2 separate regions of the Homo sapiens genome follow, and region 1 is linked to region 2. Evidence: fine-mapped expression QTL. A gene starts in region 2. The other region holds a variant in brackets. All regions are shown on one strand. Distances are from middle to middle. Region 1 has its middle 13 kb from the start of DUSP12. Region 2 holds the start of FCRLA (Fc receptor like A).

Region 1 (4,395 bases), 30 kb before region 2:
TCGTGTCCTTGTCCCTCACAGGCTTCATGTTCACAGCCCTCTCACAGAGGATCTCAAATCCCCTTACTGGGGCTACAGGGGTACTCCATGGGCAAGTCCCACCTGCTTCTATACCTTCAGGCTATCAAACCTTAAGGCTGCCTCCAATCCAAAATGATATTCTCAGGGCAGATGACTGCAGGAAGGGCTTGTAAATGCTCCTAAAAAGAAGCAGTGTCCACTAGGTGCCAGCATGAGCTTACCAAGAATGGTCTTGCCCTGATAGTCTGTTTTTTTGGTTTTCTTTTTTTTTTTTTTTGACAGGATGAGTAGACAGGCAGATTAGGGAAATGTTCATATACTGGGTACTTCCCTAGGCTTCTGGACAGACCTCCTTGTGGACAAGGGAGATAATTATGAGCTCAATATGAGAACAGTCAACTACTCAGCCTGGCCAATATGGCGAAACCCTGTCTCTACTAAAAATACAAAAATTAGTCAGGCATGGTGGCAAGCACATGTAATCCCAGCTACTCTGGAGGCTGAGGCAGGAGGATTGCTTGAACCCAGGAGGCAGAGGTTGCAGTGAGCCAAGATCGTGCCACTGCACTCCAGCCTGAGTGACAGATTAAGACTTTGTCTCAAAAAAAAAAAAAAAATACAAAAAAAATAGAGAGAGAACAGTCAACTAGGCTGGTAATTGGTCAAACAATCATACCAAAAGAGTACAACACAGATAGGTAGCGATCAAGAAATAGATTTCTAGTGAGATAGAGCTCCACCCAAATTTCTTTCATCTGCTTTATTCAATTTTTTAAAAAAGTAATTTTGATTAGAGCATAAAGATATGCTTACCTAATATGCATGTGTTACAAGCTGGGAGGGACTGTACTGGGATCAAAAATTGTCTTATTACATTAACAAAGACATAATTTAAAAGAGATAAATATAAGGTATAAGGTTTTGCATTTTGGTCCCCAAAATGAACTGCATAAACAAAAGTTGGGGAGCAAAGAGGTGTGCTTTAGATGAAAACAATCTCTCTGGTAAGTTTATAGGCAATAAGCCCAATGGGGCTGGAGAATATCACGAGTCCTGGAGAGGAAGCTATCTCGTTAGGCTACATTCAACTCCATGTAAATGGCTGGAGTTCTATTTCTATTCCATCACTATCAAGTCATTTCAGCTCTCTGGGTCTCAATTTCCTTTCTCTCAAATTAACAAGTTAGACTAAATCCCTAAGTCTTTTCCAGCAATAAAATTCTAGGACTAACCCCTTTGTTGTCTGTAGAGGTGGTGTCAACATCCACTCATTACCATCTCAAGTGCCTTTCTGAACTGCAGAGCCTGGAAATGTAAAAGGGACCGTGACTCCCCTGCAGTGAGGTGCTTGGTGTAATTTAAGTCTGGCCATTCAGAAGCCCTTATACAACACATGGAAGGTAAAAGTGAAGCGGAGGCTGTACTACTGCAGCTGATGTTGCTTCTGGAAACCTGGTTGAGAAAGATTTTGGTTTTTCTTTACCAGCAATAGTACCTACCTAGTGTCCAGGATCTAGCTTTGTGTTGCTAGGGGCAGGGCCCTGAGCATCCATTCCTTGGACCATAGAAGACAGGTATGGTCTTGGCACCGTAGCAATAGCAGTGTCTCTTCTATCGTGACTGTTTTCTTAATCATAGCAATGGCTGTGTGACCCAAGGCTGGCAAATTTCTGATCTCAGAAGAGGCAGCAACTCCCTTGTTGAACTGATATTGGGAAACTTTGCTGAGAACACAAACTACAGTCTGTCTCTTCATCTCTCCCAACCATTTTGTAAGCTATTAAATACTGTGTAATAAATTCCTTCCTCCTTAATCCAGCTAGAGTTAATTCTGTTCTCTGAAATTGAATCCTGATCAATATAATAATATACTTAAAAAGCTCTTTTTTAAAATAAAAGGCCTGGAAGAGTGCACATCAAATTGTTAAATAGTGGTTACATCTATAACCCACTGAGGGAGTGGGTGGGAGGATGGCAAGAAAAATAGGCTTAACATTTTTTTAATACAGTATGAAGTTTTCAAATAGACTATATTCATAATAATGTTTGAAAAATTAAATAAAGTGTAACTTGTATGTTAAAAGCACAATTCATTACCTGATCAAAATGTAGCTCTTTTATCTTTCAAAATCAATTTAAAATGTATTCAGTGTGGGTAATCCTCCCTGGCTCACAGCACCCTGCTACTCAAAGTGTGGCCCAAGAACCTTCAACATTGGCATCAATTAGAAGCTTCTCAGAAATGCAGACTCTCAGGCCCCACC[C/G]CAGACCACTGAATCACAATCTGCATTTGCCGTGGATATTGGCAAACTTTAATGTACACATGAATCACCCAGCGCCCTGGTGATTCATGTGTACATTAAAGTTTGCAAATAGCCATGATTTTTCTGCTTCTTTAGGTAATGGAGAGTCTTATAATGACTTTAGGCTACAAGTATAGTTTCAATTTCTAAATCAGGATGCCCATTCTAGATGTTAATCAGACCTCCAGTCTTTATCCAAAGGTAAGTCTGTCTTCTTACTTATCCATTTAAGGTGTTGACTTGGGGAAGGGACTTGATTGGTGTTTCTCTCTCTCTCTCTCTCCCTCTCTCTCTCTCTCTCCACATCCCCTCCTCCTCTCATTAGCGTCTGTTTGCTTCTCACGTAGGCCAAAGTAGGAGAGCAGAGGGAAGAAAGGGAGAATAGGTAAGGGAACAGAAAGTTATTTGGCTGAGCTGCTTTCTACTCTCTGAATTTGACAGGTGGCTAAAGCTAACTTGTTCTCCCATGAGCATTTTTGTAGACTTTTTGGATGTTTATTTCTGGGAATTGTTTCCTTAGGGTGTTGTGCTCAAGGCAGATGCATCTCTCCTCCAGGTGTTCCAGTGCACCTCTTTCCTCTGCCCCTAGGAATATAGATGCAACTCCAGCTTTTTGGTGCCTTTATCTGCCCCTCCTGGTGACCCTATAGTACAGGAACCAAGGCAACCCCATACTAGGTCTCTTTCTTCTTAATTTTATTGTTATTGTTTCTTTCTTTTTATAAAGACACAGTGTCTTTCTGTGTTGGCCAGGTTGGAGTGCAGTGGGTATTCTCAGGTGCTATCTCACTATTAGTCAGCACAGAGTTTTGACCTGCTCCATTTCTCACCCGGGCCATTTACCTCTCCTTAGGCAATCTAGAGATCCCCTGCTCCCAGGAGATCACCATATTGATGCCGAACTTAGTATGAATACCCAATGGGCATAGTGCACTAGAGCCCAGAACTCCTGGGTTCAAGCGATCCTCCTACTGCAGCCCCCTGAGGAGCTGGGACTACTGGCATGCACCACTGTGCCCAGCAAGCACTCTGTTTTTCATAGGCCACAGAAATATATATAGATGTGGCTCCTGGATCTTTTGTAGGGCTGGCTAATCCTAAAATAGGCTCTTCTATCCTACCACCATAGCTCACTTTAACTTTCTCAAGCCTAAGTCAGGCCCAGTTCCCTGTATCTCCCTACTGCAGAGAATACATTTCAGACCTACCTGGGTGATTCCATGGGTATCTTTCTCATTAGGCTTGAGAATGAGGAGGTAAGCTTCCCATGCCTCCCCACTATGAAGGGGAAATATGGCAAATAAATCATTTCACAGATCCTCTCTCCTCTCCATATCCTGGCCCCTTTTTATCCCTTGACATGATTTCAGAGTCCAAAAGTCAAGGAACAGATAGATCCTCAACCATTTCCTTTGTAAATTCTTCATATGATGATCCAGCTTCAGAATTTCATGTCCACTGTATCTTGAAATATCATTTCTGACATCCTGTCACAAGTACAATTGTTTAATTGTACAAAATAAAAATAAAACCCTGCCTTCCTGCCGTATTCTCCCTGGACACATCCATCTGAGGAACATGGTAAGTAAGTCATGGGTCCCAAATTTTAAAACTGGAGATATGCTATTTAAAAAACGAGTGGTTTGGGGGGACATGGATGAAGTTAGAAACCATCATTCCCGGCAAACTAACACAAGAACAGAAAACCAAACACCGCATGTTCTCACTCATAAGTGGGAGTTGAACAATGAGAACACATGGACACAGGGAGGGGAACATCACACACTGGGGCCTGTTGGGGGCTAGGGAGGTAGGGAAGGGATAGCATTAGGAGAAATACGTAATGCAGATGACGGGTTGATGGGTGCAGTAAACCACCATGGCACATGTATACCTATGTAACAAACCTGCACGTTCTGCACATGTACCCCAGAACTTAAAATATAATAAAAATAAAACAAAATAAAAATAGGTTAACAGCAAAAATAAAAATAAAAATAAAAAGGCCAGGATGGAGAAGGAATTCCAAATTTGAAAAAGTTAAAAACCCTGAGGAAAAAAAAATTCGAAT
Region 2 (4,395 bases):
AGCTACTTGGGAGGCTGAGATAGGACGATTGCTTAAGCCCAAGAGGTCAAGGTTGCAGTGAGCAGTGATTGCACCACTGCACTCCAGCCTGGGTGGCAGAGCGAGACCCTGTCTCAAAACATAAAATAAAATAAAATAAAATCTTGTTGGGTTACTGGGAACTCACTCAATAAACCTTAGGTGGTAGGTATTATTATTTTCATTCTACAAATGAGAAAACTGAACCAGAAATAGAAAAAGTGATTTTCTAAAGTGACATAGAGCTGGTAAATAGAAGAGGGGCTTGAAACAGGAGTATCTGATTCCAAGTCTGCAGTTCTTATCACAAGACAAAAACAAAAAAACATTGTCACTACCCACAAATAGCTCTCAATTTAGTGGAAGACACAGGTAGATGAAAATATTATTTCAGCATAAGTAGGAAAATATTATAATAAGAAAAATGTATCGCAAGCAGCCATTGGAGCAGAAAGAAGCATTCAAGAAAAGCTACCTGGAAAAGATACCATTTAAGCTGAGTCTTTAGGGGTACCTACACATTTGCAAGGAGAAGGAGAGTAGGGTGCCATGGAAAGAACTCATTTCAGGTAGAGATAGTGGTATAAGCAAAGCCTTAGAGACAGGCAAGAGTCTGGTGTGTGAGTATGTAAATATGAACTGATTGAGATTTATTAGAGCATAAGTTACAAGGCTGAGAGGGTAAAAGTAGAGGCTGCTTGGCCTTTTGTGCCATGATAAAGAATTTGGGCTGGTAAACTTGAGTTTTAGAAATTACTCTGTCTGCAGGGTACAGAATTCATTTCAAGAACACAAGGTTTGGACGAGGAGATTAGTTAGGAATTTACTGGAATAGCCCAAGTCATAGAGGATGAGGGCTTGTCCTAAGACATTAGTGATGATCCAGGCAAGGGACTGCTTCTATGAACAATTTAGAAGGTAAAATTGGCCAAACCTAATGATTGATCAGATTTAGAGAATGAAAAAGAAGGAAGAGTCTGGGTTGTTTCTGAGGTTTATGGCCTTGTAAGGGTAGATGCTGGTGTCATTAGCTGAGATCAGAAAGTGGAAAATGAATTAGATGAGGCAGGGGCCAAAAGGACAGATAAGTTCAACTCTAGTCACATGGTGCAGAGACACTTGTGAGATATGTAGGTAGATATGTCTGGTATGAAGCTTGATATTTGAATGTGAAGCTCAAAAGCATGGTTAGGGTTGGGGATATGATTTGGGACTCTTAAATACAGAGTTATAGTGGCAAAAATTAAACAGACAAATAAGCTCATGAAGGAGATTGTGTAAAGAAAGAGGAGTACAGAGGCAAGGCTATAACTATAGAGAACACTAGTGTTTAAGGGGAAGAGAAGAGAAGCTATTAAGGGATCAAGAGAAGTCCATGTAGTACAAGGAGAAAATGGTGCCATGGAAGCCAGGGTAGTAGAGAATGCAAGAAGGAGTAAGTGATCAACAGAGCCCAGTGCAGCAGAGAAGTCCAGCAGGATATGAACTGAAAAGCATGCCATAACCCAGTCAATATAGAGATCGTTGTGCCCTAGACAAAACCAATTCCAGTGGAAGCCAGGCTGCAAGCATTGAGGAGCGTGTGAGAAGTGAGGAAGTGGAGATAGCAAGTGCAAACTATTCTTTTAAGAAAACTTGTCTCACAAGTGAAAGAAAAGAGTTGAGATTAGAGCTAGAGAGGATATCATGATCAGAGGGGACTTTCAGGATGGAAGATTTTTATATTCAGAAAGTAATTCAATCCTGTACACCAAACTTTCTTATACCTACCCTTCTTATTCCACCTGAATACTGCTTCTTTGGAGGGCCAGAATTAGTCCATGTTTCTTTCCTTCTGGTCCTTTCTCCCAAGGTAAGCAAAGCTCCATTCCCACACCAATATTCAAATATTTTACTTACCCAGTAGCATCTGGGCCACCCAGAGCACACCAAGGGAAAGGTAGAGGGCCCAGGCCATGAGGACACAGCCCAGCTTCATGGTGACTGTGTTTAGGTCTCCTGCAACCCCAACACTGATTTTCTTCAACATGAAACCTCTCAGATTAGAAAAGAGGAAGTAAATTTAACTGTCTCATCTCCTTGCATCTGGGGTCTGTTTTCATTTTCTAGTTTGTAATTGGCTTTCATCATTCAGATTTGGCCAACACGCTTTCAGCATCATCTGCACCCTTAGGGCTATGACAAAATGGTAGCACTCTCAGCTGTTCAAGAATTTACTCACAGAGCTCAGGGGCCTGTCAAAGCATGTCATTGTCTGATAGCCAGCTGGCCTTCATGTACACTCTGGGAAAGGTCAGTGCAACAACCACCCTTTTCACTGGTGATGCAACTGGGGACAGAAGGTGGGATGTTGTTTGAAGGCCAATAGAAAATCACTGGAGAATCAATGATGAGAATTCAAATGTCCTGCCCATTCCAACACTTATATGTTTCTAGTGACTAGAAGGTAGCGAGACAGAGAAGGAAGATTAGTCACGGCACCAAGTTAGATATCAGATTAGTCTCTAGTAGGCTCTGACTATCCAAAGCCCACACAAATTTGCATGCAAATTTCTCTAGACTCGTGTCAGCTCTCTATTTCTGGAGCATGACTAAGTCTGCTCAGTCTCAGTGGAAATATGAGTACAAGGCAGGGAGAATCCACTGGGAAAGAGTAGAGGAAAAAGAAAATCTATTCCCAGAGGATCCAGCAGTCAGCTCAGGGCTTAGGCTCATAGCCAAAGCTCAGGCCACTGATCCTGAGGAAATTAGAGATAGGAGGCATCCGATATCTTGAGAAACCTGAGGAGACTCAGGAATAGGAGCAATATAGAGGCTACAGCCTCTCCCTTCCGTTCCAGATGGCCTCCTGGGAACCATTGTCCCTGCCTCTGAATGTTTGCTATTTGTTTGAGGCCTACTTAATGGTAGGGCCCATGTGTCTTTTCACAGTGGCCACATTCCTCCCCTTTCTGTCATCATAACACCCACCAGGCCTCCAGTAGGTTATTTGGAGATGAAATGAGCCATCAGAAATGGGGTAAGGTAGGCCAGGCACTGTGGCTCATGCCTCTGTAATCCCAGCACTTTGGGAGGCCAGGGTGGGCGGATCACTGGACTGGAGGTCAGGAGTTCAAGACCAGCCTGGCCAGTATGGTGAAACCCCATCTCTACTGAAAAAAAAAAAAAAAAATTAGATGGGCATGGTGGTGCATGGCTGTAGTCCCAGTTACTTCAGAGGCTGAGGCATGAGTATCATTTGAACCCAGGAGGCAGAAGTTGCAGTGAGCCAAGATTGCACCACTGCACTCTAGTGTGGGTGACAGAGCGAGACTCCATCTCACAAAAAAAAAAAAAAAGAGAGAGAGAGAAATGGGGGAAGGTAGTTTGGTCCTCCTTGAAGGCAGAGAGAGGGACAGTATGACCCTTCAACTGTGCAAAAACCACAGGTCAGAGCAGACATATCAACCACACGGGCATAAGAGAGTGGATCTTTCTGAGTCTAAAATAAGCATTTAGAATAAAATTTCCATTATCGAGAGGCATACGCTTCTGTGCAGGTGGCCCCAGGGAGTCCAGGGGTGGTTGAATATGGGTGCTGGGGAAGGCAGTGAGGCAGTAAGCCTTGCAGCTGATGTGATGTGAAGCCTCAGAAGAGGAAGAAAAGCCTAGCTAGCCTTAATAATTTTTTTTTTTTTTTGAGATGGAGTCTCTGTTGCCCAGGCTTGAGTGCAGTAGCGCGATCTCGGCTCACTGCAACCTCTGCCTCCAGGGTTCAAGCCATTCTCCTGCCTCAGCCTCCCGAGTAGCTGAGACTACAGGAGCGTGCCATCACGCCCGGCTAATTTTTTGAATTTTTAGTAGAGATGGGGTTTCACCCTGTTAGCCAGGATGGTCTTGATCTTCTGACCTCGTGATCTGCCCACCTCGGCCTCCCAAAGTGCTGGATTACAGGTGTACGAATTAAACAAATAAAATGTGTTTAGATGCATCGCCACTCCTAAAACTACATAAAACATAGACCCTCAGGGTTAGGCAGAGGCTAAGGGGCTTCTAAACAAATCATGATATCTTTCTCTTCTTATGTCACCCTTTCTCCTTTACTGTCCTTACCATAGCATCTTACCTGGATAGAGACCCTCCCCTATACCATCTGCAGCAATCCTTGCAGGACCCCACTGTCAATATGGAAGGCAAGGGGCCTTCTGAAGATTTGGGGTGAAGCTATCAAGTTCTTTACACTGAAATTTCCATTAAGCTGCTGGGAAAATTTACTCGCTTGAAGCTTAATCAATGAACTATTTAGAATAGATGTGATTCACTGCGAGGAAAAAGCAACATTGGGTCTGCTGTTTGTTCATGGAGACTGAGATTCGGTTTATTGAGTAAGTTCCTCCA

Evidence for each region. PIP is the estimated chance that this variant, and not a neighbour inherited with it, causes the effect. A credible set is the group of variants that fine-mapping cannot tell apart.
Region 1: its variant is the best candidate, but not a certain one, in a credible set for the expression of FCRLA in fibroblasts (GTEx, PIP 0.72).

What each region holds. Positions count from the first base shown.
Region 1 is chr1:161,734,759-161,739,153 of GRCh38, reverse strand. It overlaps the pseudogene RN7SL466P. Among named protein-coding and RNA genes, the nearest start is that of DUSP12, 13 kb to the left of the region's middle. RefSeq lists enhancers at 1-156, 2,944-3,053. The variant C/G (reference allele first, on the strand shown) is at 2,286.
Region 2 is chr1:161,704,866-161,709,260 of GRCh38, reverse strand. It overlaps FCRLA (Fc receptor like A), which reads right to left and starts at 2,032. Exons shown (of 5, transcript NM_032738.4): 1 at 1,918-2,032. The coding sequence starts at 1,996. RefSeq lists enhancers at 1,557-1,736, 3,277-3,496.